Linked DNA regions of Homo sapiens: region 2 is linked to region 1. The links come from fine-mapping of genetic effects on gene expression. A gene starts in region 1. The other region holds a variant in brackets. All regions are shown on one strand. Distances are from middle to middle.

Region 1 (2,910 bases):
CTGGGGAGGCTGAGGTGGGAGGATCCTTGAGCCCAGAGAGGTCGAGGCTGCAGTGAACAATGATTGCACCACTGCCCTCCAGCCTAGGTAATAGAGTGAGAATCTGTCTCACAAACAAACACATCTAATTTAACATGGGGACTCCAGAGACAGAGGAAAGAGTAATGGATCATTTCCAGGTTTCTGGCTTGAGCACTTGGGTGGCTAGTGTTGGCACTCTCCTAGAAAACACTGGAGAAAAAGACATTCAATTTTTGGATATGTTGAATTTTGAGGTTAATAGAATCTTGAAAATTAAAGCTTCCTGATTTTGTTAATCCGTTTTCTGACACCCTTTAGCAATTCTTCAATGCAATGCTTTTCACATTATTATATGCATAAGAATCACCAGGGGTGTGGAGATGGGGATGTGAAAATGCAGGTTCCTAGGCAAACAAGCCAAGATTCTGGATACCAACTGGGTCCCAGGACTCAAAACAATCAGCCTGAGTAATTCTGATGGAGGGAGTCTCCTGACGACACTAAAAAAACAACAAAAACGACCCCTCTGCCGGGCATGGTGTCCTGTAATACCAGCACTTTGGGAGGCTGAGTCGGGAGGATCGCTTGGGCCCAGGAGTTCGAGACCAGCCTAGGCAACATAGGGTGACCACCCACCCCCGTTTCTAAAAGTAAAAAAAGACCCCTCGTGTGTCTCCACCGTTAGGTTGTTTTCCCACTGTCCACCCCTCCCTACTTCTCAGGCACCTGCTTGGGGGCCCCTATTGCTTCGAATAAGCTCCGTGGGAGCCAGGACTTTGTCTTGCTAACAGGTGCATCTTCAGCGCACTCAGAACAATATCTGGCACAGCACGAGACACCTAGAAATGTTCGCCGAACGATCGAATGGCTGAATACATTCATATGTTGCTTTGTACAAAAACTTGCTTTCAAATATCTGGGAAGAGTTAGAGATAGGAAAGCAGAGGTCATTTCAAAGAGAGAGAGTGAGGATACCACCGGGAAGGCAGCGCCGAAAAAACCAGAGGGGAACCACTTGCCGATCCCCCAGGCACAGTCTGGAGGTCCCAATTCCCGCGGTAGGGGGGCGAGAGATGCCACTCGTCTGATCAGCAACCATTTTGGGCCCGCTTGCGCCGCTTCTCCGGGGCGTCCGCGTTGTGCTCATCCAGTTGCTTTTGAGGTTCCGGCCCCCTCCAAACCTCTGAAGCGCTCCGTGCACGCGACGCGGCGGCGGGGTAAGCTGGAGCCCTCGCCGCGAGCCCTCTCCGCTGCCTGCCCGCAGCACAGCCGCGCCGACCTCCTCATCATGGCGGCGGCCGGGCGGGGAAGCCGGGCCGTGCGTCGCGTGCGTGCCCTCTCCCTCCCCTCCCCCTCCTCGGCGGCGGCGGCGGCGGCAGAAGCGGCAGCGCTCGCCATTGCCGCTGGTGGCAGGAGGCTGCGAGGAGCCGGCGCGGTCGCAGTCTCCACGGCGCAGGCCCACGGTAGCGCAGCCGCTCTGAGGTGAGTGCCCTACCGCGCAATCTCCAGCTATTTCAGCCCCGGCGCAGCCGCAACACGCCGCCCGCCCGCCGGCCGGCCGGCCCGCCCCGCAGCCGGCACCCTGCCGCCCCCGGCTCTGGGCCTGGGCCCCCGCCGGATTCGGCCCGCCTCGGGCGGGGGGCCCCGGCCCGGCCCAGCCAAACCGCCACCCCGAGGATGCGCAGGCCGCACTAGGCCCCAGGCGTCCTGGCGGGCTCGGGAGGGAGGCGCTGCCCTCCCGAGAGCCCCAGGGTTCCGGCCTCCTCCGCCGCCTGGGGCTCTCGGGGCCGCGGCCTTCTCCCCGCCGTGGAACCCGGGGCCCGGCCTTCCCGCAGCTCGGGAGCGGGAGGCGCGGGAGAGTGCGCCGGGCCCGGGAGCGGGAGGTGGGCGGGCTGCGCGGGACCGGAGCCGCGGCTCTCGGCTCGCCCCCTCGGCCCTTCCCGGCTCTCGTACGCGGGCGGGCGGGCGGGCGGCGCGGTGGGGCCGGGCTGGGGCGCGGGAGCCGCTGTCTCCTGCGGGAGAGGAGGCTGGCTCTTTGGGCGACCTCCGAAGCTTCCCTCCTGCCGGGGTGGCGTGGGCTTGTTACCCAGGTAGACTGGGGGACGCTGGAATATGGCGCGTTGCCCACCTTCTTGCAAGTTAGGAGGTGGCCGGGGCGGCAGTTCGAGGAGGAGGGCGCAAAGTCCTTTTGTACGCAGAAATAAGGAGCGACATTGTGTTTTCTTCCCCAGCTGAGATGTGCCCGCGGAGGGGCCGCGGTTCTTCCTGTGCCTGGGGTGGTGGTCCCCTGGGTGAGGGAGAGGGGGAGTGGCACGCCCCTCCGAAGGAACAGAACCTTTTGCCACTGGAAAGACAGGGGCTCTGAGATGGCCGTGTGCATGGTATTTTCCCATATCCCCAGACCTTTTCGGGTTTGTCATTGAATGTTGTGCACTCCATCGTGCAATGATGTCTGCTGCCTCTCTCACCTGTTGTGTCGTGGCTGCTGGTCCCAAAGTTTCTGCAGTGTATTTGGCTGTGCCCACCAGAACTTGAAGTTGTTTAAAAATCTTAATACTTGGGGGGCTTCCAGTGATATCTGCTCCAACCAGTTGGAGGAGCTGTTGCCTGCTCTCCATTCTTCTTAAGCATTAGATTAGAATATATTAATTGCTTATTTTAGAGCTGGTGTCAATCGTGCTGATTTCTTTATGTGGTCAGAGCAAAATTCACATTTTTTTAAGTGTTCAGAGACTGCGTATTGAGAGACGCATAAGGAGAAAGGTAGTGTGAGTGAGCCTGTCAGCTTGGGCAGTGTTGGGCAGAGCTTTTGTCCCGGGACATCATCTGTGCTCACAGTGATCCTTTTTCCCATTCCATCTCAGCCTAGCCTTTTAAAAAATTATTTTT
Region 2 (2,910 bases), 35 kb after region 1:
AGAATAAGTTACACTTATATAGCACTCACTATATACCATGTCCCCTTAAGCCCTTTTTCAAATAGTAATTCATTTTGTCCCCAGTAATTCTATGAAGTAGATTCTGTTATTTTCCTTCATTTGACAGATGTTACAACTAAGACAGAAAAAGTCAAATGAAACTTCTCCAAGTTGCTAGTAAGTGGCAGAGCAAGAAATGGAATACAGTATTCTGGTTCCAGAGTTTGTACCACCCCGCCGGAGAAGTGAGGATGTGTTTAAGTAGGCATGAGGTAGAATGGAGAGGAGACTCTCCAGACACTTGTACATGCTGAGCCCAGTTGTATAATAAGAAAAAAGAATGGTAACTCTAAATCGCTCTTTCCCATGCTGGAAATGATAGCCATTACCCACCACTGATTTTCAGTAGGTCTACGCAGTCCGCTAGGGAGTTAGGATGGTAGATAAAGGTCAAAGGTACCATTGCTACCACATTTTCTTTGGTTTCCAAAAACCTGATCTATTCATCGAGTAATATGACAAATTATTTTCTGTTTGTCAGTGTTATTTCTATGAAGAGACAGTATAGTACTATGATGTTGATTTTGAGGTTTGCAGGAATGTTAGACTTAAAGAGTAGGTCAGATAGACTCACAAACATAAGTTTGTGTTGATATCACCTACTTTCCTGTCTATGCTCCCTTCTCACTTCTAAGTGTCCCATTTCTGTCTGTGTGAAGCATTTTATTTTTATGTATTTATGTATTCTGAGATACAGTTTCACTTTGTTGCCCAGGCTGGAGTGCAGTGGCATCATCTCAACTCACTGCAGCCTCCGCCTCCCGGGTTCAAGCGATTCTCCTGCCTCAGCCTCCCGAGCAGCTGGGACTACAGGCGTGTACCACCACACCCGGCTGATTTTTGTATTTTTAGTAGAGACAGGGTTTCATCATGTTGGCCAGGCTGGTCTTGAACTTCTGACCTCAGCTGATCCACCTGCCTCCCAAGGTGTTAGGATTACAGGCGTGAGCCACCGCGCCAGGCCTGTGAGACATTTTATACTCTATAGCTTAGCATCTTTTTAATGATTCATTAAATTTGAGATTCATCAGTGTCTGAAAACAGAAACTCTAATTGTAGTCTTGTAAAAATGGGCTTCATTTTTTACATCACTTCTTTATTGAGGGTATGAGAATCCCGGATTGCTGCTTACCAGCACTGTATGAGTAATTTTGAATGCAAGTATGTATTTTCTTCTTTAAGTATTAATCGGGGCCTAGAAAACCATGTGTGGCATTTCAGATAATTTAATTCTGGGAACTGGGTACACAGGTGTTACAAGATGAAAGAGCACAAAAGACACTGGGGTAATCCAGATAGGAAGCACTACCACCCCTAGGTTTGGGGGAACAGAAGAGAAGAACCTGGAAGCTCAGAGAGGTCCTCCTGCAGCTGGTAATCTGATCTCCTAGTGGAATGCCATTCAGCTGGTACTCA[A/G]CCACCAGGAGAGAAGAGGCACAGCTGGAGTTGGGAGGTGCAACACTCCTCTTGCTGGAGCAATGCTGATATTATAACAATGAAAACAGCAAAGAAATCCCTTCTTCTCTCCCCTTCCAGTCTCCCTAGGCAAAACCTAACAGGATACTGGCAGTAAAGTCTGGAAAACATGGTTGGCAGGCTCAGCCCCAGAGCGAGGAATAGTGCAACTCTGACAAGAATAGAAGACAGGGCTTGGAAGTGAGACGGAGAGAGAGAGATAAACAGCAAGCATAACCTTGTAGGAGAGTTACAGAAACTGTAACTGCCTGGGTGTAGCTTTAGTTATTAAAATGTGCAGCTGATTACCCACAATCATTTATCAAAGAGCACATTATGATAGATCTATTCATAGAGACTTTATGGACCCGAGCCCTGACTTCAGTGAGCTTACAGTATTTTCTTTTCTTTTTTTCTTCGAGATGGAGTCGCACCCTGTCGCCCAGGCTGGAGAATGCAGTGGCGCGATCTTGGCTCACTGCAACCTCCGCCTCCCGGGTTCAAGCAATTCTCCTGCCTCAGTCTCCAGAGTAGCTGGGATTACAGTCATGTGCCACCATGTCCGGCTAATTTTTTGTATCTTTAGTAGAGACGGGGTTTTACCATGTTGGCCCGGCTGACTCCAGACCTCGCGATCTGCCCGCCTCTGGCCTCTCGGGATTACGGGCATGAGCCACCATGCCTGGCGCTTACAGTATTTTCATAAAATCATCCACTCATCCCTAAGTCATTATGAAGTTGTGTGGTAAAGCTTTTTTTTCTTTTCTTGCTTTTTTTTTTTTTTTTGAGACAGAGTCTCGCTGTGTTGCCCAGGCTGGAGTGCAGTGGTGCGATCTTTGCTCACTGCAACCTCCGACTCCCAGGTTTAAGTGATTCTCCTGTCTCAGCCTCCAGAATAGCTGGAATTAAAGCCACCACCCCTGGCTAATTTTTGTATTTTTAGTAGAGATAGGGTTTCACCATGTTGGTCAGGCTAGTCTCAAACTTCTGACCTCGCGATCCCCCAGCCTTGGCCTCCCAAAGTGCTGGGATTACAGGCGTGAGCCACCACGCCCAGCCCAAAGCTTATTTTTCTTAAGCATTATATAAAAGCATCATTGTTAACTGGATTATCGTGTTATTAGTATTAAGGAATATTTACAAAGTTAACCTATTGGTATGAAAAATATTTGATTAGTCATACAATTTTGTTAGTTTTAGATGCCGCAAATTAGGAGTTTGTCTTCCTCAAGGCAAGGCCACTTCTAAACTTGAACTGTGCTGTTCTCAGTTCTTAACGTAAGAAGGGAGCTTTATTTATCTAGTGACAGTTTGCTCTAACATGTCATTTAATTTTAATTTTCAAAAGGATCAGTTTGGAAGACTATATCATAGCTATTTGTTTTTAAAGCTCAT

Alleles and levels. Alleles are on the strand shown, and positions count from the first base shown. SD is a standard deviation of normalised expression in the study named.
For the expression in prefrontal cortex of the gene that starts at base 1,399 in region 1, G is the low allele of the variant in region 2 and A is the other (small effect, 0.39 SD a copy in GTEx).

What was found.
Region 2: its variant is fine-mapped to the expression of NRF1 in prefrontal cortex (GTEx, PIP above 0.99).

Annotation. Positions count from the first base shown.
Region 1 is chr7:129,610,322-129,613,231 of GRCh38, forward strand. NRF1 (nuclear respiratory factor 1) reads left to right here and starts at 1,399. Exons shown (of 11, transcript NM_005011.5): 1 at 1,399-1,503. RefSeq lists enhancers at 817-866, 2,547-2,686 and a silencer at 1,257-2,246.
Region 2 is chr7:129,645,120-129,648,029 of GRCh38, forward strand. The region is part of intron 1 of NRF1 (nuclear respiratory factor 1); the gene reads left to right. Among named protein-coding and RNA genes, the nearest start is that of NRF1, 35 kb to the left of the region's middle. The variant A/G (reference allele first, on the strand shown) is at 1,477.